5 separate regions of the Homo sapiens genome follow, and all the other regions are linked to region 2. The links come from fine-mapping of genetic effects on gene expression. A gene starts in region 2. Each other region holds a variant in brackets. All regions are shown on one strand. Distances are between the middles of the regions. Region 1 overlaps STK33 (serine/threonine kinase 33). Region 2 holds the start of STK33 (serine/threonine kinase 33). Region 3 overlaps STK33 (serine/threonine kinase 33). Region 4 overlaps TRIM66 (tripartite motif containing 66). Region 5 overlaps STK33 (serine/threonine kinase 33).

Evidence for each region. PIP is the estimated chance that this variant, and not a neighbour inherited with it, causes the effect. A credible set is the group of variants that fine-mapping cannot tell apart.
Region 1: its variant is the best candidate, but not a certain one, in a credible set for the expression of STK33 in lymphoblastoid cells (CAP, PIP 0.57).
Region 3: its variant is the best candidate, but not a certain one, in a credible set for the expression of STK33 in atrial appendage (GTEx, PIP 0.88).
Region 4: its variant is the best candidate, but not a certain one, in a credible set for the expression of STK33 in whole blood (TOPMed, PIP 0.75).
Region 5: its variant is the best candidate, but not a certain one, in a credible set for the expression of STK33 in transverse colon (GTEx, PIP 0.66).

What each region holds. Positions count from the first base shown.
Region 1 is chr11:8,500,450-8,505,555 of GRCh38, reverse strand. All of the region lies in intron 1 of STK33 (serine/threonine kinase 33), which reads left to right. Among named protein-coding and RNA genes, the nearest start is that of STK33, 91 kb to the left of the region's middle. The variant A/G (reference allele first, on the strand shown) is at 2,170.
Region 2 is chr11:8,592,315-8,597,420 of GRCh38, reverse strand. It overlaps STK33 (serine/threonine kinase 33), which reads left to right and starts at 3,193. Exons shown (of 16, transcript NM_001352389.2): 1 at 3,193-3,338. RefSeq lists a silencer at 3,371-3,630.
Region 3 is chr11:8,514,602-8,519,707 of GRCh38, reverse strand. All of the region lies in intron 1 of STK33 (serine/threonine kinase 33), which reads left to right. Among named protein-coding and RNA genes, the nearest start is that of STK33, 77 kb to the left of the region's middle. The variant G/A (reference allele first, on the strand shown) is at 2,186.
Region 4 is chr11:8,622,944-8,628,049 of GRCh38, reverse strand. TRIM66 (tripartite motif containing 66) reads left to right here. Exons shown (of 25, transcript NM_001388022.1): 16 at 2,822-3,337; 17 at 3,499-3,691. Among named protein-coding and RNA genes, the nearest start is that of STK33, 31 kb to the right of the region's middle. The variant C/G (reference allele first, on the strand shown) is at 2,834.
Region 5 is chr11:8,436,924-8,442,029 of GRCh38, reverse strand. STK33 (serine/threonine kinase 33) reads left to right here. Exons shown (of 16, transcript NM_001352389.2): 12 at 1,277-1,352. Among named protein-coding and RNA genes, the nearest start is that of STK33, 150 kb to the left of the region's middle. The variant T/G (reference allele first, on the strand shown) is at 2,361.

The DNA.
Region 1 (5,106 bases), 92 kb after region 2:
AAGCCTTCTTGGAAGAGGTGGTGTTTAAGAGTGACAAAGAGTGATCCAGAAAAAGATGAACCTGGGCAAGGGCAGGATGGTAGGAAGAATGTCCCACGTGGAGGGAATAGCACACGTGGCAGCACAGAGAGGAGAGAAACTAAATTGACATCTGTCCGAGAATGTCAGAGGGGAGAGTCCTTCCACTAGTGAACAGTTTCGATACATGCCTTCTAAGGCTCCTTCCAACTTTAACATTCAATAAATCTATGAAAAATATCAATTTTTAAATAGGTAACAGACTGCGTGGCTTCATTTGGTGAACTTTTATCATTAGCTTATATATCAGGCATATGTAGATGCAAATCAGGATGCTAAGCACTGAATAAGAGTTTCGAAGTGGAACCAATAGGCTATTCCAGAGGAAAAACAGACTACAGTTTATGGCTGTCCAGTGGTGTGTTGGTAAATATTTAGCAATCACCTTTCCAGAAAAATAAGCTCTGATTTATGGCATTTGCCAATTCCATGGTATAAGCACACCCACCATGGCTAATTTTAAGCTGCCATCACTGCTGTGGAGTTGGGAAGAGATGTGCATGAACACACCATTGTGTAGTATTTTCAGCATACAAATGCAGTAGGCACAAAGAACCGCAAGATTGCAGCATAAACTGTGATGAAATGATTAGGAAGTGATGAATTTTGAGTATTTATTACTTTTGTTCCTATATCATTTATTATAAGTTTATATAATTTATTTATTTTCCTTTTTTTTAGGGACAGGGTCTTGCTCTGTCACCCACGCTGGAATACAGTGGCGTGATCGTAGCTCACTGAAGCCTCGAACTCCTGGGCTCAAGTGATCCTCCTGAGCCTCCCAAGTAGCTAGGACTACAGGCACACACCACCATGCCTGGATAATTATTTTTTATTTTTATTTTTTATTTTTCTGGAGATGAGGTCTCCCTGTGTTGCTAGGCTGATCTTGAACTCCTGGCCTCAAGTGATCCTCCCACCTTGGTCTCCCAAAGTGCTGGGATTATAGACGTGAGCCATGGCACCTGGCCTATAATTTAATTTTTAATAGTAATTGTATTTGACAACTATATCTCAAAATTCCTGAAAATTTAACAATTGGCTCTTGCAAGTTGATACAGGCCAGCTTTAGCACATTACAACCGCTACCCCTGGAAATGCTGCTTAGGGTGTTGCCATTGTGAGAATTGACCTAGTTGTCAAAGGGCTCTCTGTGCTTCTTACAAAGCTTACATATTCCCACACCCAATGTAAATAATGATGTATTGGTTCATAACAGCAGTAGCTGTCAGTTTCATGGGAGTGGAGTAGAAAAGCTCCTATCTACCCTTTCCTCTGAATCCTGTTTTTCAGCTTTGACAGGCTTATGTCTGGCTAAAATAGTCTGTTGCACTTATTTTGTTATTGTGTAGAGGAGATAAAACATGGAGCGGGGAAAATTTTCCTATTTTGTATGAGTTCCTGGCAGAGCAAACAAATGACTATTTTTAGCCACTGGGAACTTAAGGAGTACAGTTTTAAAGTCCATTGTGAAACAATTTCTATGTAATTCCTTTTAAAGCTATTGTGTTCCATTTGATGTTTGTTAATTGCTGAAGGAAAAAGAGTCCTACCTATTTAAAACACAGAAGTCAAGTTCAAGTACAGGAGAAGTGTTAGAAAGGGGAGGGAGTCCCTTTATTATATAGATAAGGAGATTGGTGACAAGTCAGATAAAAAGAATGAGACCTAGTGGGCTAAATCATCATAATAAGAGGCTGGAAGGTGTAGACTGGGAGAAATGAAGAAGGGCTTCCCACCCAAGGAAGAAAGAGTAGTGAATTTTAAGTCGAACTGACTAAAATGCTAGTCAAAGACATAGATCCTTTGAGCTGGGAAAGCATTTAGGATTAATAGTTTCAAGATGGAGACTTTTTAACTTTTAGTTTCAGGGGTCCATGTGCAGGTTTGTTACATAAATAAGTTGCATGTTGCAAGGGTTTGGTGTCTATGTTGTTTTGTCACTCAGGTTTGAGCATAGTACCCAATCAGTAGTTTTTTGAATCCTCACACTCCTCTCACCCTCCATTCTCAAGCAGGCCCCAGTGTCTATTGTTCCCTTCTTTGTGTCCATGTGTACTCAGTGTTTAGCTCCCACTTATAAGTGAGAAC[A/G]TGCCGTGTTTGGTTTTCTGTTCCTGCATTAGTCTGCTTAGGATAATGGCCTCCAATCCATCTATGTTGCTACAAAAGACATGATCTTATTCTTTTTTATGGCTGTGTAGTATTCCATGGTGTATGTGTACCACATTTTCTTTATCCAGTCTACCGTGGATGGACATTTAGGTTGATTCCATGTCTTTGCTATTGTAAACAGTGTTGGTGCAATGAACATATGCATACATGTGTCTTTATAGTAGAATGATTTATATTCCTTTGGGTGTATACCTAATAATGGGATTGCTGGGTCAAATGGTAGTTCTTTGAGAAGTCGTCAAACTGCTTTCTGCAGTGGTTGAACTAATTTACATTTCCACCAGCAGTGTATAAGCATTCCCTTTTCTCTGCAACCTCACCACTATCTGTTATTTTTTTACTTTTCAAAAATAGCCATTCTGACTGGTATGAAATGGTATCTCATTGTGGTTTTGATTTGCATTTCTCTAATGATTAGTGATGTTGAGTATTTTTTCATATGCTTATTGGCTGCATGTATGTCATATTTTGAAAAGTGTTCATGTCCTTTGCCCACTTTTTAATGGGGTTGTTTATTTTTTGCTTGTTAATTTAAGTTCCTTATAGATTCTGGATATTTGACCCTTGTCAGTTGCATAGTTTGCAAGTATTTTCTCCCATTCTGTGGATTGTCTGTTCTGTTGATTAGTTTCTTTTTTTCCTCTGTGCAGAAGCTCTTTAGTCTAATTAGGTCCCATTTGTCAATTTTTGTTTTTGTTGCAGTTGCTTTTGGCATCTTTATCATGAAATCTTTGCCAGTTCCTATGTATAGAATGGTATTGCCTAGGTGATCTTCCAAAGCTTTTATGTTTTGGGTTTTACATTTAAGTCTTTAATCCATCTTGAGTTGATTTTTGTATATGGTATAAGGAAGGGATCCAGTTTTAATCTTCTGCATATGGCTAGCCAGTTATCCCAGCACCACTGATTGAATAGGGAGTCCTTTTCCCATTGCTTTTGTCAGCTTTGTCAAAGATTTGATGCTGGTAGGTGCACAGCATTATTTCTGGGCCCTCTATTCTGTTCCATTGGTGTGTGTCTGTATTTGTTCTAGCACCATGCTTTTTTGGTTACTGTAGCCCCGTAGTATAGTTTGAAGTTGGGTAACAGACTTCACTTAAATTAATTTTGGCAAATTTTTAGGGACGACTTAATTTTTAAAAATTTAAATATAATTTATAGACCATAAAATCTACCATTTTAAAACATATATTTTCATGGTTGTACAATCATCACACTATGTAATTGAGAACATTTTCATCTCCCCACGAAGAAACCTCATACCTATTAGTCACTTCCCAAGCCCTGAAATACACTAATCTGCTTTCTGTCTCTTATGATTTGCCTATTCTGGACATTTCATATAAATAGACTCATATAATATATGGGCTTTGTATCTAGCTTCTTTTACTTAGCAGAATATTTTCAAGGTTCATCCATGTTGAATATATATCAGTGGCCAAATAATACTCTATTGTATGTATATACCATGTTTTCTTTATTCATCAGCTGATGGGCATTTTTGCAACTTATTCATCAGCTGATGGGTTGTTTGCAACTTTTTGGCTATTATGAATAATGCTGCTGTGAACATTTGTGTACATTTTTGTGTGAACATGTTTTCAATTATCTTGGATCTAAGAGTAGAATTGCTGGATCATATGGTAGATGTGTTTTACTTTTTGAGGAAATCCCGAACTGATTTCTGGCTATACCATTTTACATTCCCACCAGCAGTATATGGAGGTTCTAGTTTCTCCACATCTCTTTATACACTCTCCAGCACTTGTTATTTTATTTTATTTGTTTTTTACTATAGCTGTCCTAGTGAATGTGAAGTGATATCTCATGCTTTTGATTTGTATTTTCTTGATAACTAATGATGCTGAACATCTTTTCATGTGCTTATTGGCCATTTGTATATTTTCTTTGGGAAAATTTATTCAAATTCTTTGCCCATTTTAAAATTGGGTTGTCTCTTTATTCTTGAGTTGTAAGAATTCTTTACATGTTCTTGATAGTAGGCCCTCATTAACTATATGATTTGCAAATATTTTCTCCAAGTCTGTGGGTTATTTTTCACTTTCTGGATAGTGTCCTTTAAAGCACAAATGTTTCTTATTTTAAAGTCCATGTATCTATTTTTCCTTTGGTTGCTCATGCTTTAGGTGTCATATCTAAGAAACTGTTGCCTAATCTAACATCGCAAAGATTTACCTCTATGTTTTCTTCTAGAAGTTTTATAGTTTTAGCCCTTACAATTAGGTCTTTGATCTATTTTGAGTTAAGTTTTGTATATGGTGTGAGATATGGGTCTACATTTATTCTTTTGTGTGTAGATATCCAGTTATCCCAGCACCATTTGCTGAAAAGACTGTTCTTTGCTCACTGAATTGTCTTGGTACCTACCCTTGTCAAAATTCAATTAGTCACTTGTTTTTTACATGTATATAGTCTCATTTCTGGACTCTCAATTCTGTCCTATGATCTATATGTCTGTTGTAGGCCAGTACCACAGTGTTTGGATTACTATAGTTTTGAAGTAAGCTTTAAAATCATTAAGTATGAGTGCTGTAACTTTGTTCTTTTTCAAGATTGTTTTTGCTATCGTAAATCCTTTCATTTTCATATGAACTTTACAATTATCTTGTCAATTTCTACAAATAGGTAGATGGAATTTCAATAGGGATTACACTGAATTGGTAGATCAGTTTGGGGAGTATTGATTCTTCCAATACATGAAGACAAAATGTATTTCCATTTGTTTCTTTAATTCCTTTCAATGAAGTTTTATAGTTTCATGTGTACAAGTCTTGCACTTATTCTGTTAATTTATTCTTTTTATACTATTGGATTGAATTGTTTACTTCATTTCAT
Region 2 (5,106 bases):
GATTGTTGTATAGTAACGGCCCCTAGAATAGACTGAGTTCCTTGGCAGTGTTAAGAATTTGTCATGTTAGTGGTCATGGTGTTGCAATCCATTATCTCACTGAGAATTGATGACTTCAGCTATGGTTACTAGCCCTAATATTTAATGTAGCTGCCTTGAGCGACTTGAATGCTTAAAAAAAATGGTCTAAGGCATTATGTCAAGAGTTACCCAAGGAAACCTAGGATCTTTCTGTATATATTTTAGGGAATCGAGTATATTTTACTTTCTTGTATAGTTCCTCTGGTTCCTCTCTATAAATATTAGTGACATTTGCACACTGGAAATGAATATTTGTCTATTTGTCAGTCTATCTATCCACCTATTTACCTATCCATCTATATCTTACCATGTTCAACAAAATCTCTTTCCTTCAACCCTCCCCTCCCCTCTCTGCCTCCCTCCCTCCCCTCCTTTCTTCTATTAATTCTTTTATTTATTAACTCCATAATGTTTACTAACTAGCTACTAAGTTCCAGGCACTGTTCCCAGGCACTAGGAACAAGCAATAAACAAAGAGGCCAGGTCCCTGCTGTCTTGGAGCTTAGCTTCTGGTGAGGAAACAGGGAAAATAAAGAGCTTGTTTTAGATGGTGTTAAGTGCTCTGAGACAACAAAGCAGGGTGATGTGATAGACTGTGGGGTGGGGCTATTTTAGGTAGGAAGATCAAGGAAGGCTTCTCTGAGGAGGTGGCAAGTGAGCTGAGATCTGAATGATGAGAAGGAACCAGGCTTTAGGAGATACAGGGGCAGAGCCTTACAGAAAGAGGAAACAGCAAGTGCAAAATATTTGAAGCAGTTTAAAATAATAGTCAGTACAACAAAAAGATAAAAGTAGGAATGAGGGGAAATGAAAGAGAACAGGAGAAAGTTGTGATGCAGATATGCAAACTGTAGTTTGACAAAGTTATTAAAATTGAGTTGCAAATTTGGGTGCTATCTTCCTGAAGTCAAGGTGAAAGGGAAATGTGATCAATCTCATGGTCTGCTTTCTTTATTAAAAAAAGTCATGTCAGTTTCTCTAGGGAAAAAGTGTTCTTTTCTGGCACTCAGGATTGAAATATATTTCTTGCATTGACCCTCCTATACGGGGCATATAGGTGATTATATTAGTGTGGTAGGCCCCTCCTCCCAACTCCAAAGAGTTGGAAATACTATATGGAATTCAAAGGCAGGAATACAATTCATTTCAGAAAATACCATGACTAGGAATGGAAAGCCGTCAGAACTCTTTTGGTCTCTTCTTTCTGTATATCTTTTTCAGCCTTCCTCTTCTTTTCCCATTTTCCCTGCAGCCTGGCTTTCTACATTGCTTTTGGCCACATGGTGGGAAAGTATGTCTGTTGAAGGCTTCTGATTTTCTATTTTAAAGATGTTCTGTGTTTCCACATTAGCTTCCTAGAGAAAGATTGCAATCTCTCTGTCCTAATTCCAAATTCCTGGGAGAGGGATATGATTGCCTTATCTTGAGTCAGGTCCCTACTATTGGAGCAATCAACTGTAGTCAGGTGGCCTGGTTACCTTGTCTGAGGATCCAGGTCTAGTTTCCAGAAAAAGACATCTGGTTATACTGCTGTTTTTGAAATGCAACTTGCATTGAAGGTCAAGAAACCATTAGTGGGTAGAAACTAGCCTTAAAAAGAGATTAAAAGTATCAGGGTGCATAGCATGTGATGTGGGTAATGTTTTATAAAACTTGTTTCATTTACTAAATATATGAGTACCTGTGTATTGAGTGATAATGTAAAACATATTTATTTTGATGGATTGTGCTCAAAAAAGTTTGAAAAGCTCTGCGCTGGACAAGCTGGTAGGATTCTGCTACAAAGATGTAATAAACAACATTCTTAAAGTAATCCCTCTAGTAAATGCAGAGGTATCATGAATTTTTTTAAACAGCATCTCTTAATATAAGCAAATGGCATAGTGCTAAACATGACTTGGTTCATGCAATGTTGCCAACGGTGAAGACAAAATGGTACAAACATACAGTTTTTTGGTGGTCTGGTTTAATCCAGGGCAAAACGCAGTCCAGTGGTTGCTTTTGTTTTTAGAGGCAGGGCTGGCTATGTCGCCCAGGCTGGAACCTGTGAATATGTTACCTTATATGCAAAGGGCACTTTACAGATGTGATTAAGGACCTTAAGATGCGGGAGATTATCCTAGGAGATCTTTTTTAATCTCCTAGAGCCTGGTACCTAGTAGGACGTCATTATATGGTAGGTTTCTTGCAGCCCTTTGGTGGCCAGGTAGTTTTTAATTTTGTAGAGATGGGGGCCTCCCAGTGTTACCCAGGCTGGTCTTGAACTTCTGGGTTCTAGCAATCCTCCTGCCTTGGCCTCCCAAAGTGCTGAGATTATCGGTGTGAGCCACTGCGCCCGGCCTAGTCCAGTGGTTTGAAGTTTGAAGTTACCAGTCACCCATTATGACCATTTTGAGTTTTTTGATGAAAAGGACTGGATGAACTAGTTGCCAAATGTAGCCTCCCCCGAAGCAATACAATGAATCCACCTGCCGTATCAAGTTACTGGCTATCAATCAGCTAATTTTAGAGAACATCTGCCTCAAATAATTAGGCTAGTATTAGGAGAGTTGAATTTCTTCCCCACACTGCTAGAGAGTAGGACCCAGGACCACAGAAGCCATTCTTAGTTCAGGCCAGTAAATACATTAGCATACAGCTGGACCCTCTGTTGCATGGGGCAGGCATTCAGATGGTTCTCATAGGTTTGTAGCTAAAACATATCCCTGAGAATCGTCATTTGATCTGTCAGGAGTCTTCTCAGCCCCTGCGTGGGGACAAACACCCTCCCCCCAGCATTTTCCCGTCTTTTTAGGCCAGCTCCCCACTCACTGCAGTTCAAGGCTTGCAGCCCTTGCTCCAACTGGCTGGGGCTTGATGGGCTTGACTCCGAGTGAGAAGAGTGGCCTGAGCATCAATCACCTCAGTACTGTGATATTCCTGCTACAAAGCTTTATTTTACGTAACACGTGGCTGCTCCTCTGTGCCCCAGACGGGGTTTTAGGTCCTTCTCTAAGGCGAGCTGCCCTTGGGCGCGCCTGGGGCTGCACCTGGGTCACGTGGGCGCCGTTGTGCAGCCGGCACCTCCCGGCCAACCCCGCGGCTTGGAGAAGGGGCTTTGCACCCGCCGCCGCTGTTTGTCCTCGCGCGGCCCCCGTCCACTGCCCTGCGGTTGCTCTGCGGGCTGAAAAGTTTCTCCCGGTGCAGAATTCCGGGCTCAGCGACAGCCTGCGCCGAGTGTGCGCACCTGTCGGAGACCCGCCAGTCCGCCGGCCGCGGTGAGTGGTCCCTGGAGTCACTGGCTCAGGGCGGGCCCGCGGGATGGGGCGGGCGGCCCGGGGCGCAGCCGGCCAGGCCGTTGCTATGGCAACGCGGTGGAAAAACGGGCCTCTGGGTATCTCGCTGCCGGCCGGCTGGTAACCCCCCAGCGGAGGGACCGGGCCGAGCCCGCGGACCCCTCCGAGTGTCTCCTGGGGCCCAGCCGTTGGTACCCCATTTCCCCCGGGTCCGGTATTTGGGGTGGTCTCTGTCTGCCCCGGTTCATCTCCACCGTCTCACCTTCACCCCATCTTGGGACGTGAAACTTTTTGAAAGTTTAGAAGCGAACTTACTGTGGGGTAAGTGTGTGGGAAACATCCTTAGAAGTTCTGAAGTTGTGTTTCTTTTTTTTAAACTGCTAGAGCCTGGTACCTAGTGGGACCCCATTATATGGTAGGTTTCCTGTTGCCCTTAAGATAGTCTCTTGCACCTAGAGGCTGCACATAGGAGGTGAAAGGATGACATAAAGCAGCCCCGTACTGGCTCTGTGGACAGGTAATTTAAGAACTCTCCCTCAGCTTCCTAAATGTAGATTATAATTTCTCACAAGGTCGTGGGTTTCAGTGAACCTATATGTGAAGCTGTTTTGTGAACAGTACATGTGAAAAGCACTTGAGCGTTAGTAAGGGATATTTGCATGCTAAGAGTGGTCTGGTGCTCCCCGTCCCATATCACCAGCTAAGAAGGACCTTCTTTTTTGCCTGACCACCAAATGACTCCAATATCCAACCAGAAAATAGGATAGTCCTGCCTTGAAAGAGGGCTCTGTGAATGGAAAGGAACATCAACAAGTTTTGAACCCAAACTCTTTCCTTGTTCTCCAGGCCCGTGCCTTTAGACAGTGATGGATATGCAGATATATCGCGCATTTAAATTTTTAGCTCGTGTAAATCTCTGTTGCTATCTCAATGGGTCATACCAACCTCTAGTTTGCAAATCAGAAATCTTGGCCTCATCCTTGACACCTCGCACTTTCTTCCTTTCCATATCCAAACAATCATCAAGTTCTATTCATTTTATCTTCAAACCAAATCTCAAATCCATTTGAGTATCTCTGTCTCTGCTACTATTACCCTAGACCAATCTACCATGATCTGTTGTCCAGTAGTAGCCTCTTAACTAATCTAAAGGTATTTATCCTTTCCTTTCAATATTCCCATCCATTCTTTGCCCTGCAGCAGGAGTAGTATTTTCACAACTAAAATTTGATTATGCTACCCCCCAACCTCCTCTAGCTCAAAATCCATCATGGCTTCTCATTATTCTTAGAATAAAGACAAAACTCTTAATGTGGCCAAAAAGTTGGGTGACCATGTACATGACCATCCAGACCAAGATATTTTTGAGAGTTCGAGGCTGCAGTGAACTTGCCACTGCATTCCAGCCTGGGCAATGGAGTGAGACCCTGTCTCAAAAAAAAATAAAAAAACAGTTCCCAAAAATGAAATTATAGGGAGGTCAAAGGGCAGGAACATTGTGAATGCTCTCAAAACATCGAAACATTGCCATACTGTTTTTCAGAAAGATTATGCCAATTTACATTGCCACCGTCAGTTTTATGACACCCATATTAGCATTATTATTTTAAAAACTTTGCTAATTTCACAGATAAAAATGGCACCTCCTTATTTTAACTCACATCTGTCATTATTAATATGTTTTAAGTGAAATCTTATTGTTAGCTATTAGCAAAAGCTTTTTGATGGTTTTTGTATTGGAGTCTTAGTT
Region 3 (5,106 bases), 78 kb after region 2:
TAGTATTCTCTGATGGTAGTTTGTATTTCTGTGGGATCGGTGGTGATATCCCCTTTATCATTTTTTATTGTGTCTATTTGATTCTTCTCTGTTTTCTTCTTTATTAGTCTTGCTAGCAGTCTATCAATTTTGTTTATCATTTCCAAAATCTAGCTCCTGGATTCATTGATTTTTTTGAAGGGTTTTTTGTGTCTCTGTCTCCTTCAGTTCTGCTCTGATCTTAGTTACTTCTTGCCTTCTGCTAGCTTTTGAATGTGTTTGCTCTTGCTTCTTTAGTTCTTTTAATTGTGATGTTAGGGTGTCAATTTTAGATCCTTCCTGCTTTCTCTTGTGGGCATTTAGTGCTATAAATTTCCCTCTATACACTGCTTTAAATGTGTCCCAGAGATTCTGGTGTGTTGTGTCTTTGTTCTCATTGGTTTCAGAGAACATCTTTATTTCTGCCTTCATTTCGTTATGTACCCAGTAGTCATTCCGGAGCAGGTTGTTCAGTTTCCATGTAGTTGAGCGGTTTTGAGTGAGTTTCTTAATCCTGAGTTCTAGTTTGTTTGCACTGTGGTCTGAGAGACAGTTTGTTATAATTTCTGTTCTTTTACATTTGCTAAGGAGTGCTTTACTTCCAACTATGTGGTCAATTTTGGAATAATTGTGATGTGGTGCTGAGAAGAATGTATATTCCATTGATTTGGGGTGGAGAGTTCTGTAGATGTCTATTAGGTCCGCTTGGTGCAGAGCTGAGTTCAATTCCTGGATATCCTTGTTAACTTTCTGTCTTGTTGATCTGACTAATGTTGACAGTGGGGTGTTAAAGTCTCCCATTATTACTGTGTGGGAGTCTAAGTCTCTTCATAGGTCTCTAAGGACTTGCTTTATGAATCTGGGTGCTCCTGTATTAGGTGCATATATATTTAGGAAGTTAGCTCTTCTTTTTGAATTGATCTCTTTACCATTAAGTAATGGCCTTCTTTGTCTCTTTTGATCTTTGTTGGTTTAAAGTCTGTTTTATCAGAGACTAGGATTGCAACCCCTGCTTTGTTTTTGTTTTCCACTTGCTTGGTAGATCTTCCTCCATCCCTTTATTTTGAGCCTATGTGTGTCTCTGCATGTGAGATGGGTCTCCTGAATACAGCACACTGATGGATCTTGACTCTATCCAATTTGCCAGTCTGTGTCTTTCAATTGGGGCATTTAGCCCATTTACATTTAAGGTTAATATTGTTATGTGTGAATTTGATCCTGTCATTATGATGTTAGCTGGTTATTTTGCTTGTTAGTTGATGCAGTTTCTTCCCTGCATTGATGGTCTTTACAATTTGGCATGTTTTTTGCAGTGGCTGGTACCGGTTGTTCCTTTCCATGTTTAGTACTTCCTTCGGGAGCTCTTGTAAGGCAGGCCTGGTGGTGACAAAATCTCTCAGCATTTGCTTGTCTCTGAAGGATTTTATTTCTCCTTCACTTATGAAGCTTAGTTTGGCTGGATATGAAATTCTGGGTTGAAAATTCTTTTCTTTAAGAATGTTGAATATTTGCCCCCACTCTCTTCTGGCTTGTAGAGTTTCTGCCAAGAGATCCTCTGTTAGTCTGATGGGCTTCCCTTTGTGGGTAACCCGACCTTTCTCTCTGGCTGCCCTTAACATTTTTTCCTTCATTTCAACTTTGGTGAATCTGACAATTATGTGTCTTGGGGTTGCTCTTCTCAAGGAGTATCTTTATGGTGTTCTCTGTATTTCCTGAATTTGAATGTTGGCCTGCCTTGCTAGGTTGGGGAAGTTCTCCTGGATAATATCCTGGAGAGTGGTTTTCCAACTTGGTTCCATTCTTCCCTTCACTTTCAGGTACACCAATCAATCATAGATTTGGTCTTTTCACCTAGTCCCATATTTCTTGGAGGCTTCATTCGTTTCTTTTTACTCTTTTTTCTCTAAACTTCTCTTCTCGCTTCATTTCATTAATTTCATGTTCAATCACTGATACCCTTTCCTCCTCTTTATCAAATTGGCTACTGAAGCTTGTGCATGCGTCACGTAGTTCTCATGCTGTGATTTTCAGCTCCATCAGGTCATTTAAGGACTTCTCTGCACTGTTTATTCTAGTTAGCCATTCGTCTAATCTTTTTTCAAGGTTTTTAGCTTCTTTGCAATGGGTTTGAACATCCTCCTTTAGTTTGGAGAAGTTTGTTATTACC[G/A]ATCGTCTGAAGCCTTCTTCTCTCAACTTGTCAAAGTCATTCTCCGTCCAGCTTTGTTCCGTTGCTGGCGAGGAGCTGCATTGCTTTGGAGGAGAAGAGGCACTCTGATTTTTAGAATTTTCAGCTTTTCTGCTCTGGTTTCTCCCCATCTTTGTGTTTTTATCTACCTTTGGTCTTTGGTGATGGTGACGTACAGATGGAGTTTTGGTGTGGATGTCCTTTCTGTTTGTTAGTTTTCCTTCTAACAGTCAGGACCCTCACCTGCAGGTCTGTTGGAGTTTGCTGGAGGCGTACTCTAGACCCTGTTTGCTTGGGTATCACCAGCGGAGGCTGCAGAACAGCAAATGTTGCAGAATGGCAGATGTTGCTGCCTGACCCTTTCTCTGGAAGCTTTGTCTCAGAGGGGCACCCGGCTGTATGAGGTATCAGTTGGCCCCTACTGGGAGGCGTTTCCCAGTTAGGCTACTCAGGGGTCAGGGACCCACTTGAGGAGGCAGTCTGTTCGTTCTTAGATCTCAAACTCTGTGCTGAGAGAACCGCTACTGTCTTCAAAGCCATCACACAGGGACGTTTAAGTCTGCAGAAGTTTCTGCTGCCTTTTTTTCAGCTATGCCCTGCCCCAGATGTGGAGTCTACAGAGGCAGGCAGGCCTCCTTGAGCTGTGGTGGGCTCCATCCAGTTTGAGTTTCCAGGGCGCTTTGTTTACCTACTCAAGCCTCAGCAATGGCGGACGCCCCTCCCCCAGCCTTGCTGCCACCTTGCAGTTCAATCTCAGACCACTGTGCTAGCAGTGAGTGAGGCTTCGTGGGTGTGAGACCCGCCAAGCCAGGCACGGGATATAATCTCCTGGTATGCCATTTGCTAAGGTCATTTGGAAAAGTGCACTATTAGGGTGGGAGTGCCCCGATTTTCCAGGTACCATCTATCACGGCTTCCCTTTGCCAGGAAAGGGAATTCCCCCGCCCCTTGCACTTCCCGGGTGAGGTGATGCCCCATCCTGCTCCGTGGGCTGCACCCTCTGTCTGACAAGCCCCAGTGAGATGAACCCAGTACCTCAGTTGGAAATGCAGAAATCACCCATCTTCTTTGTCGCTCACGCTGGGAGCTGCAGACTGGAGCTGTGCCTATTCGGCCATCTAGGAATCTGCCCCCAGTTTCATTCTTTTATATGTGGATATCCAGTTTTCCCAGTGCCATTTGTTGAAGAGACTGTTCTTTCTCCATTGTGTATTCTTAGCATCTTTGTTGAAGGTCAGTTGACTATATATGCATGGGTTTATTTCTGGGATCTCTATTCTGTTCCATTAGTCAATATGTTTATCTTTATGGCAGTATTATATTCTTGATTACTGTAGCTTTGTAATATATTTCCAAATCAGGAAGTGTGATGCTTCTGGCTTTGTTCTTTCTTAAGATTGCTTTAGCAATTTGTGGTCTTTTGTGGTTGCATGTGAATTTTAGGATTGCTTTCTTTTTGTAAAAAATGCTGTTGGGATATTGGTAAGGATTGCGTTTAATCTGTAGATTGCTTTGGGCAGTGTGGGCATTTTGACAATATTAATTATTCCAATCCATGAACATAGGATGTCTTTCTTGCCCCAGATCTTATAAAGCTTTCAGTTTTACGCCTTTGAGTGTGATGTTAACTATGGGCTTTTCATATATGGTCTTTATTACGTTGGGATTGTTTTCTTCTATTCCTGGTTTGTTGAGAGTTTTTTTGTTTTTTATCATGAAAAAGTGTTGAATTTTATCCAAATGCTTCTCTGCATCTATTGAGACAAAGATGTGATTTTATTTTCAATTCTGTTAATATGGTGTATCACATTGATTGGTTTTCATGTGTTGAACTATCCTTGCATCTCAGAGATAAGTCTTACTTGGTCATGGTTTGTGATCCTTTTAATGTGCTGTTGAATTCAGTTTGCTAGTGTTTTGTTGAGAATTTTTACATCTGTATTCATCAGAGATATTGTCATGTAGTTTTCCTTTTTCGTGGTATCTTTATCTGGCTTTGGTATCGGGCTAATGCAGCTCTTATAAAATGAATTTGGAATTCACCAGTGAAGTCTATAATCCTGGGCTTTTCATTGTTGGGAGGTTTTTGATTAATGATTCAATTGCCATACTAGTTATAGATCTGTTTAGACTTTCTGTTTCTTGAATTTATCTTGGTAGGTTCTATGTTTCTAAGAATTTTTCTGTTTCTTCTAGGTTATCCAGTTTGTTGGCGTATAATTGTTCGTAGTAGTCTCTTATGATTCTTTTTATTTCTGTAGCATGAGCTGTAATATCTCTTCTTTCATTTCTGATTTTATTTGAGTATTCTCTTTTTTTCTTAGTATAGCTAAGAGTTTGTCAATTTTGTTTATTCCATATGTCTCTTGTATTCTTTTCAATATTTTGTATTTTCTCCTTGATTTAATCTGGATGCATTTTAATTGTTCATTTTTCTGACTTCTCTTCCAGTTCAGCTGAGTTTAATCTGCTATTATGACCATCCTTTGAGTTTCTAATTTTTGCAATTGCATTTTTCAGGTCTTTAATGTCCTTTTGTTCATTTTTTGTGTTTTCTCATTTATTATAATTTTCTTGTCTGTATTTCTTTGATAGTTAGAGTCTCTATCTGATAACTTTAATGTTTGGAGCCTCAGTTGGTGAGTTTATATTCCTGGTTTTATTCATGTTTGCTTGTCTAGTCATGTGGCTGTTTTAAAAAAATTAAATTGTTTGCCAGACATTATATTTGAAACATTGTTTGCAGAGATAATCTGAGGTCCAGGATGGTGTCATCAACATTCAGAGAAGGATTATGTTTGTTCCTGCTAGCGCCTGTGGGTATAACCAGTCCAGGATCACGTCAACTCAATTTTAGAGAATGAGATGATTTGATGCCTATTGCTGTAGGTTGGAAGTCCTTC
Region 4 (5,106 bases), 31 kb before region 2:
GACCAGCCTGGGCAACATAGCAAGACCTTGTCTCTACAAAAATAAAAAATAAAAGTTAGCCAATGTGATGTTATGCGCCTGTAGTCCCAGCTACTCTGGCGGCTGAGGTGGGAGGATTGCTTGCTTGAGCCTGGGAGGTCAAGGCTGCAGTGAGCTGTGGTTGTGCCACTGCATTCCAGCCAGGGTGACAGAGCAAGACCCTGTTCAGAAAAACAAAACAAAAACTTACTATTCATGGATGCACATGATTTGTGTGCACAGAAAATCCAAAGGAAAATCCCAGAGTGACTTTAGCAAGGTCTATACAAAGTCAGTATTCAAAAATCAATTGTATTTCTATATACAGTACACAAACAATAAAGAGAAATGGAAATCTACAAAATTATGTTTTATAATAACATGAAAAAACTTAAGATGCCCTTCTGAGCCTCATCTTTGTCAAGTGTAAAACTAGGTCTGCAGCAACAATAATAACAATAAAAATAATAGAAGCAGCAGTAGAAACAACTGGGGTTTACTGAGCATCTACAGTATGCCAGATATTGTTCTAAATGTTCACATGGATTGTTTCTTTTAACCTTTAATGGTTATTGTGAGGATTAAATAAAGTAATATATGTAAAACATTTAGCAAATTGCCTTGCATATAATAAATTCTCAATAAACTTTAGCTGTATAAAAATAATCATTATTTTAGAGAGACTCATAGACTAAGTTGTCAGTAGACCTAAGCTGCTGTTCATTTGGCTAAAGATTTGTAGAATAAACAGTCCTGTATTAGTGTTGTTTTGAATTTTTAAACAGCTCATTAATTCATTTATTCATCCAGACACTGCTCTTGGGTCTAGGAATATGGTGGGTAAGCAAAATAGATAAAAATCCGTACCCTAATGGAGTTTACACTTTAGTAGGGGAAACAGACATTAATCAAATGATATCACGGATTGTGGTATGAAGCTGAAAGTACAAGTACAAGGCATATGAGAGCATAAAAGCAGGAACCTAGTCTGGACTAGAGAATGAAAGAAGGCTTTCTGGCAAAAAATGTCAGTTGAGCTGAGTTCTGAAGGATAAGTGGAACAGGGCAGGGGTAGGAGAATTCTCTGTGCAGAGAAAGCAGTCCATCTGAAGGGGGTGAGGATAGTGGGTGGAGGGAGAGCTTGGTATGTTTCAGGAACTGGAAAAAATGAGTGACTAGAGTTCAGTGAATGAGGAGAGGGTTATTGAATGAGCTATGGCTACAAAGGAGGACAGAGGACAGGTCATCAGGGCCTCGGGAGTCTTGTTAAGGATTTTTGCAGTTATTCTAAGAAGAATGTAGCGCACTGCGGGGTTTTATGAAAAGAAATGATGTGATCGGATCCGTGTTTTGAAAATACTTCTCCATTGAAGAGGCTACTACTGTTGTCTAGGGAGATGTGAAAGTAGGTTAGGCTAGGGCACCATTAGCAGAGGGAAGAATTAGTGGGTATATTTGAGAGATGTTTAAGGGGTAGAATTGATGGGGCTTGGTATTAGCTTGGGTGTGGCAGGAGGGATGCTTCACTGATGCCTCCTTCCTAGGATCTGACTTGCAGAACTGAATGACTAGGAGTGACTTTCACTGAGATGAGGACAGTGTTCATGGCAAAATAGCTTTAGTAACTTTATATTGAAACTTGAGAATGTATTTGAAGTATTTATTTTCCTGTGAAAATGTGAATGGGGAAGAAATGACAGGTTCAAGACACTGATTTTGGAAACTTAGATAGATATGCCTAATTCCCATTTTCTCTTTGTTTTTCAAAAGATGTGAAATTGTTATATATTTAGTCTTTTTTTTAAAGGGCAGGGATATGAAACTTACACATTCCTGAAGATTATATTTAGAGCCAGTCTCCCTCCTTTTCCCTAAATCTGTCTCTTCAATCTGAAAAATGGAATGGATTCAGTACAGAAATCTGTATCTTCAACTTCTTTTTATAAACCTTTTACATCTCTTCTCCTCAGATGTAAGAAAATAATTTTGGAGTCAGAACATTACTGCCTTATCCAATGATTGTACGGATTGGGTGATATTAAGATTTAGCTGCTTTGATGTTCTCTGCCTCTGGTTTGGAATATCTTTGGCAGGTATACTAGGGCCAGAAAAGACCTTCAAATATCTTGGTTAAAGCCTACATCAAATGCTAGTAGTGCTTGGAGTTGATCTGAACAACCCCATAAGAAGGCCCTGCAGTTGACCCAGGTTCCCCAGGACTGATTGGAACTTTCTGAGCCTTGGCATTCTCTCAAAGAAGGTCTGAGGCAGATAAGAGTTTGAGCCTTCTCAACCCCCTGCTACTTTTGTATAGCAGAAACTATTCTATAGCACCCCTTGACGGGAAGAGAAGCCACTGGTGGTATAGTCAGAGGGGAATTTGAAGTTAGAGGGCAGTCCCACAGCCGGACCCTTTGCTTAGGTACAAGACTGGGGTGAGGGATATGGCTGTGTGTGTGTGTGTCTGTGTGTGTGTCTGTGTGTGTGTGTACATGCCTCAGGTCAGGCAATAAGTTCTCCTTCTCACTCTTGCTGTGACACACACACACACACACACACACACACACAATAGTTCTCCGCTTGTGCCTCTCTCTCTATGTCATAGCCTAGCAGCCTCCTTGGTTTCAGGAAGAGGAACAGGGCTTCATGCATTGCCTGAGTTCCTGGCAGCTACCAGCAGCTACCAGACTCTGAAGCCAGAGTGGAATTGGAGCATGGGAGTTCCTGTGGGTTGGGTCCCTCCTCTCCCTCCCTCCATTCCCAGCTAGCAGCCTGACTCTACCCCTTGTCTCTGTTCCTGCAGCACTCCACCTCG[C/G]TGAGCATCATGGGCTTTTCCAACACTCTGGAGATGGAGTTGTCATCTACCAGGTTGGAGAGGCCCCTAGAGCCACAGATCCAGAGTGTGAGCAACCTGACAGCTGGTGCCCCCCAGGCAGTACCAAGCCTGCTGAGTGCTCCCCCCAAAATGGTGTCCAGCCTGACAAGTGTTCAAAACCAGGCCATGCCCAGCCTGACAACCAGTCACCTACAGACTGTGCCCAGCCTTGTGCATAGCACATTCCAGTCCATGCCCAACCTGATAAGTGACTCCCCTCAGGCTATGGCAAGCCTGGCAAGTGATCACCCTCAGGCTGGGCCCAGCCTAATGTCTGGTCACACCCAGGCTGTGCCGAGTCTGGCAACTTGTCCTCTGCAGAGCATCCCTCCAGTTTCTGACATGCAGCCAGAAACTGGGTCCAGCTCCAGTTCTGGCCGAACTTCAGGGAGCCTGTGTCCCAGAGATGGGGCTGATCCCTCCCTGGAGAATGCTCTGTGTAAGGTAAGTCCTGGGGAAATGCTATCCAAACTTCCTTTGTTCATCATTGGGCAAAAGATTGGCCACTGGGACCCTTATTCTGACCTTAGCTTAACAGTTCTGAGACCACTAATGACAACCATGTCTGAGTTCTTTGATTCTTGTCGACATTTCACTTTTGAAAGATGGAAAGTGAGGATTCCACTCGCTTCACTGACTTACTGGGACAAGGTCCCATAGTCCCCGGTCTGGATGCTCCCAAGGACTTGGCCATCCCCTCAGAACTGGAGGAGCCAATTAACCTCTCTGTGAAGAAACCTCCACTGGCGCCAGTGGTCAGCACGTCTACAGCTCTGCAGCAGTACCAGAACCCAAAAGGTGAGACTCAAGCAGCCTGCCCTTCATGTTGGCCACAGACTTGAGCAGATGGACTCAGCACTTCTAGGTAAGAGAGGCCAGCAGACAAGCTCTAAGCTGGGGAAGCAGTGCATCTCTCTGAGGCTGAATTTACTTCTCTCCTCCGGAACTGTCTTAGTGACACCTGTTCTGCTTCCCTCACTGTGGCCATGGCTGATCTAGGCATGGCCAGGACTTACTCTTTTTGTAACACTCCCCATGCAAAGAGTCCTGGGGGTCTGCATTATACCTAGGGGGAAACAGAACTCAGCCCAGGAGGGCTAGCCTTGACAAAATGTTATAGGGAAAAGAGCATGTCTGACTTTGGAGTCCGATAGATGGAATTTGGTAAACCAGTTCTCTCTCCCTGTGATCCCGGGTAAGATACCTAACCTCCCTCAACTGATTTCTTTCTCTCTAAATGGGGCCAATCGCACCTACTTCTTAGGCTACTGGGACCAGTAACTATAGTGAAATCATTTGATAACTTCCTCTGAGTAGTAAGGATTTTCCTGGTACCTGACACTAATGTGGATTTGTGTTGTGCCTCATAGTGAAGGCAATTTGGACCATTGGAGATTGGTTCTGATTCGCTTCTCAGCTTCCCATGCCCCTTCTCCAACCAGGCTAGGCTAAGTTTGTTCTTCTGTGGAAGGTGAGGGCTAGTTGGGAAGTCAGGAAGCGACTTCCTGATGATCATTTGGGACTTTTTTCGTTCAATGTATGATGCGTGTTTAATTTGTAATGATTAGTCTGTTTCCTATATGTGTAATAAATGAAAACGAAAGAAATAATTTTTCTCCTTTTTTTTCACACTGACTGAAAGGCCAACTGAAAAATCGTTGGTTCTTATTACACACAATAATGTAACTCTGCATTTTATGCAGTTAAACTTTTTAGACCCTGCTTGCGCATGTACAGTGCCTAGGACCTTGCCTGGTGCTGAATGGATGCTAGTTTCATCCTTTTGCCCCATCACTGCCTCCTGCCCATCTCCATAGACTGCATACTCAGGGGAGAACTCCCTGGGAGCCTCTTTTCCATGGAGTGTGAGCTGGATTCTCAAGCACTGCTGGAATCCCAGCACTTGGCTGACATGGCAGAGGCTGGACAAAAAGACTCCTCAGAGGAGGCAACACTGGTGTACTGAGAACAAGTGATTTCTGAGCTCATCTTGAAGGTGAGAAACTGGCCCATCAGTGCCTGACCCAACACTTACCCATAGGCAGCCTCTTGAGTGTTACTTGTGTTCATCTTTTTAAAAGAAGGTGGGCTTCCTCCTCTCAAGAAGGAGATCCACGGCAGACTTGTCACCACTATGTATGAATGACTATAGTGTAGGTAACTACTGTATGACAGATGTGTGGCCAAAGGTATGAATAGCAGATATAAGTAGA
Region 5 (5,106 bases), 160 kb after region 2:
GGTGTAGGTATGTGTAGGTGGGAGAGATTGAAACTTTTCTAAAATAAAAACGCACCTTTTGCATAGGAGGCACTCTGCAGCTGTGTAACATTAGGCAAGTCACTTAATATATGTGAAACTTAGTTTCCTCATTGGCAAAGGGAGTCAAATGCTTACGTATCTATCTCACAGAATTCTTAACATACTTCATACAAATAACAATTTATGCAAAAGTATAAATTTTAAAGTTCTATTGAAATATATACATATATTGTATTTTTCTGCTTATAACTATTTTCTTTTTATTTTTTCTTAAATATATCTGATTCATAGCTATAGAGGTACAATAGACATGTTCCTGCAGTGTCATTTGTGACTTTTTAAAAAGGCAGCCAGCTGAGTGTGGTGTCTCACGCCACTAATCCCACCTATTCAGGAGGCTGAGGTGGGAGGATCACTTGAGGCCAGGAGTTTGAGGCCAGCCTGAGCAGCACAGCAAGACCCCATCTCTAAAATAATTTTTAAAAAACAATTAGCCAGGCATGATAGTATGCACCTGTAGTCCTAGCTACTCAGGAAGCTGCGGTGGGATGATACCTTGAACCTAGTAGTTTGAGGCTGCAGTGAACTGTGATCATGCCACTGCACTCCAGCCTGGACAATAGAGTGAGACCCTGTCTCAAAAAAAAAAAATACACACACACACACACATATATATATTTAGTATAGTCTATGTCCTGTGACTAGTTGGCTTTTTGATCCAGTTTTATAGGAGCTCTCTCTTTGTCTTGGCTTTCTTATTTGAAAATGCAGAAAATAGTTCATATTCTGTTATAGGAGTGATGCTATTATTATTTTACTAAAGTGATTTATAACCACGTACCTTAGTTTTTCTGTGAATCCAGATTTCCACATATTGGGCCTGCATTATGTTACATCTACTTAAGGCATATATTTAATTCTATTTTGTGGAAAGGGCTGGGATATTGTTGTCTTCTACTATAACTACAGAATCTTTGCAAAATCATTTCTTAACAATTTAAAGAAATAAAGGGTAGTGCATTTAGTTATACAGTTTACACCATTGTTCCATTAGAAGCTAAATGATAGGAGTGAGGTTACAGTGACATCAATTGTTAAGGCCTGTGCATTATTCATTTAAGATCTGCTGTTGGTTCTCTTTTCCCTATGGGGGAATAAATTACAGCACATCAGCACATTTTTCATGCTTGTGTTTAAGCATTTAAAAGACATTTATTGTATTATTAATGTTATTTTATATCTGCTTGTTTGGCAGCCCCTGAAGTTATCAGTGCCCACGACTATAGCCAGCAGTGTGACATTTGGAGCATAGGCGTCGTAATGTACATGTTGTAAGTAGCCTGCTAAATGTACACTTTAAGATGAGTGGATAGTTTCTAACAGTAGAGTGATATAGACTTTAAATTAAAACTAATATATATTTTTAAAAAGTGATTTAAAAACCAATTGGGAGATCATTCTAAAAGCTCTCTTATTAGTTGTCAGGTATACATACATCCCTGAGGTATTTTTTAATACTGTAAATTTATAACTTTCAGCTTTGGTTTTCATTGATCTATAAATACAACAATATGATCTGAGCAAAATGAAAAATCTTAACACCTTCCGTATCCTTTGCTACAAACCAAAAGCTTCTTTGTGTTTTCTCATGAGGTTCACTTATAGCTTATCAGGTGTAGGGAGGTACTGTGGCCTGGCACTTGTTCTACCCATACAGGCAGAGCATAGGTGGGAGTGGGCACTAACTAGGCAGAGGGTCACTTAGGATCTAGGGAGTATTCTACAGTTCCCAGTTCCCATAATGATGTTGTGCTGCTGGAGCTTTCAGTCATTCTTGTTCTTCCTTCTCTGTCATTCTCAAGATTCAGTCAAACTCCATGTCCTGCTCATTTTTCCTTTGAAATATCCTTACCTATTCTTTGATTTCTCTTCACCTGTATCTTTTCTCCTTATGATTCCTTTTCTAGACTATTGCAGGGTCTTTCTGACTGTTCTCCCTACTTCTGGTCACCCTCCCCATGTTTGTCCTTCACGTTGCTGCCAGGGGTGTCCTTTCAAATCACAAATCTGATCATACTGCTTTCCTGATTAAAATCCTCTGATATATATATAAAAGCCTCTGATATATATATATATATAATTATAATATAATATATATGTAATCTAATACATATATATATGTATTTGTATACGGAGAAGTGTCAGAGCATCTTGGCATGGCATGGCATGGCATAGCAGAGCAGGTCTTTCATGACCTGATTCCAGAATGCCTTTCCAGTTTGGGGCTGGATATGTATTCCTGTGCACCTACACTGTGCTATAATGATTCCAGGTCACAT[T/G]TCAATACTCGGACACACCCTGTGTCATATGCCTCTGGAGTGTGTATGGGTATGTGTGTATTCTTTTTCTCTGTAAGATTCTCTCCTGGGTGGACCCAGCTCAAACATTAAGGCCTTCTATTTCTCTACTCCTACTTTACCCCACCATAGCAGAGTTCCTACATTTATTAGGTATATACTTTCTCATGCTCCACAAAAGATTTTAAGGTATCATGCAAAACAGTAATGTTGAAAGAAAAAATAATAAAATAGGAACATTTAACCAGGAAGGTTTACACATGTGTAAATCCAATAGAATTCATTGTTCCCTTTTATGTATCCTCATAAAGCTTTTAAAAACCATATTATAATATTATATATATTGTATCTGTTTTCCTTGTTCTAAATTCCATGGAGGACAGAGACCTTAGATTATTCATCTTTGCATTCCTGGTATCTGGTATAATAGACATACATTCAGTGCTCAATATGTTTGTTAAATTGAATTAAAGTGAATTTTCTAAGAGGTGTTCTGAAAAGTTAGTGACCATTGTTCTGCCTCTTGCTGAATGTGAACATTTTTATGTTGATGCAACATTAGTTTTATGGTCATATTGAAGATTTCACTATGCACTGCCTCTTCCAGATCATTTCTAAATATTGACATCACAGTAGTTACATTTTCACAGTTGTGTGAAATGGAATATACAGGCAGTAGAAATTGGATGATGTGATTGTAGCTGTAACTCAGCTGGTCAACACACATCGTTGCTTAGATTACATAAAGTATAAAAGTATTCAAAAAGTTTTTGATCATCGTTTTGTGCTGATTAAAATCATAGTGCAAAAATTCTGAGCCTTAGTCTTTAATTCAAATATAACTTTTAAATTAGTCTTTTATACTCTGAAGACTTTCTAGAAACCATGAGTCAAACATCCTATATATAATCTAATATTATGCAATTCATGTAGTGTTTGCTGCCTTCTTAGTTTGAACTTGGTGTTAAGGAAAGTGAATGTATTATATCTTAAATATCTTTCTCTTTCTTAGAAATATAATTTTAATTTTTCTGCTTCAGAGTGTGACTGCATATCACCATAATAATGTTGTCTTCTCTTTACAGTAGACTCTTACTTAGCTAATCAGTGCCTATTCATTAATCTGTCTGAGCCCAATGGTGTTATAATTTCCTTAATCAAGAGCACAAACATATTACCTTCTCCAGGGGGTTTATTTTCTTGTTTATCCGTTACCTTTGATTCATTTCTATTTAATCAGATGGTGATAACATACTTTCTCAAGGTGAAGTTAGCATAAGTAAATATTCTTTGTAGTTTTTGTCCTCTGCTGTTTTGATTTCTATGAATGCAACAAAATAGTAGGAAGACTTTAAGAGATATTTTTCGTGTCTTGGATTCCCTTTTCTGGATGTGCAGGAAATTGCTGTCATAAAATTTTGTATGCTGCTGATTGACCAACCATTAGATACATTTTTATGTAAATAAAATTGCAAAGAACAGAAAAAAAAGTGAATTTTTTAAGATGTAGCCCTTAAGCTATAGTTGCATGCTAGTCAGGCAATGCAGAGGCAGCTAAGAAATTGGTGGATGTGCATATCACTGGTTGATAACAGGCTCAATGAACTAGGCCTTTGCTGGCCTGCACTGTTTTAATAGATAGTAATTGTCCAGAAGGCCATTTTTCTGGCTATTTTGTTTTCCATAGCTTTTTAAATTGCATTTTAAAACTAAACAATAGCAAGGTGAATAGGATGAGAGAGAGGAAATCAGAATGAGCTAGAGAGATAAAAAGTATTAAAATAAGAGTTTGCAGAACAATATGATACTGATAAATACTTAGTAAGAACCTATTGGTAAATGAAAAAGCTCTATTGTCTGGTCTAGTTTGATAAACCACTAGGATGAAAGCAACTTTTCCCCCCACAAAAGTCATCATAATCATCATCATTACTATGAAAAAATCAAATTTTGACTTATTCAGAAAATGTTCATGAGTTAGATTTTTAAATAAAGAAAAATATAAAGAAAATTAGTAAAAATGTAACTGTTAAAAGATGTAGAGATTATTATACTTATGTACAGTGTAGACCAGCAGTTTGGGAAGTATAATGAAATTATGCCATTTTATTCTTTCATCAATGAAGTATAAAAATATATTCCTGAGAGTTGAAGAATAGACACAGAGTTGCCCCTGTGATGAATCTAATTACATCTGTCTGGTTGTCATTGGACAAATCTGGTTGTTATCTATAGGATTGCCCTCAGATGTTGGAGTTGACAGTAATGAGGATGGCTGACATTTGTTGATATTGTGTTATGAAGAATTGAACTCAGCTTTTAAGCTTGTTCTTGTAGTTTTGACCTAGATCACTTATTGAAGTAATAGCTTTACAGGCTTGCCATGTTCTATTAAGAGTCTAAAGGTACATTGTTTCTGTATTAAAGAATGTGAAAACAAGTCCATGTTCACTTTATACACAGTGCTCATGGTTTTACTGATGTTGGTCATTAGGTACACTTAGCTTTCACCCTTTCAGGCCAAAGGGTCAAATTATTGTCTGATTTTTCCACATTCAGACCCTTTTGATTTCATATACAATTTTTGATGAGTTGTGTCCGTTTTAATGGCTTTTTGGCATTGACTTAGGTCCTATAGAAATTCCCAGGGTTAGGGCTGGGTGCGTTGACACATGCCTGTAATCCCAGCACTTTGGGAGGCCAAGGCAGGTGGATAACTTGATGTCAG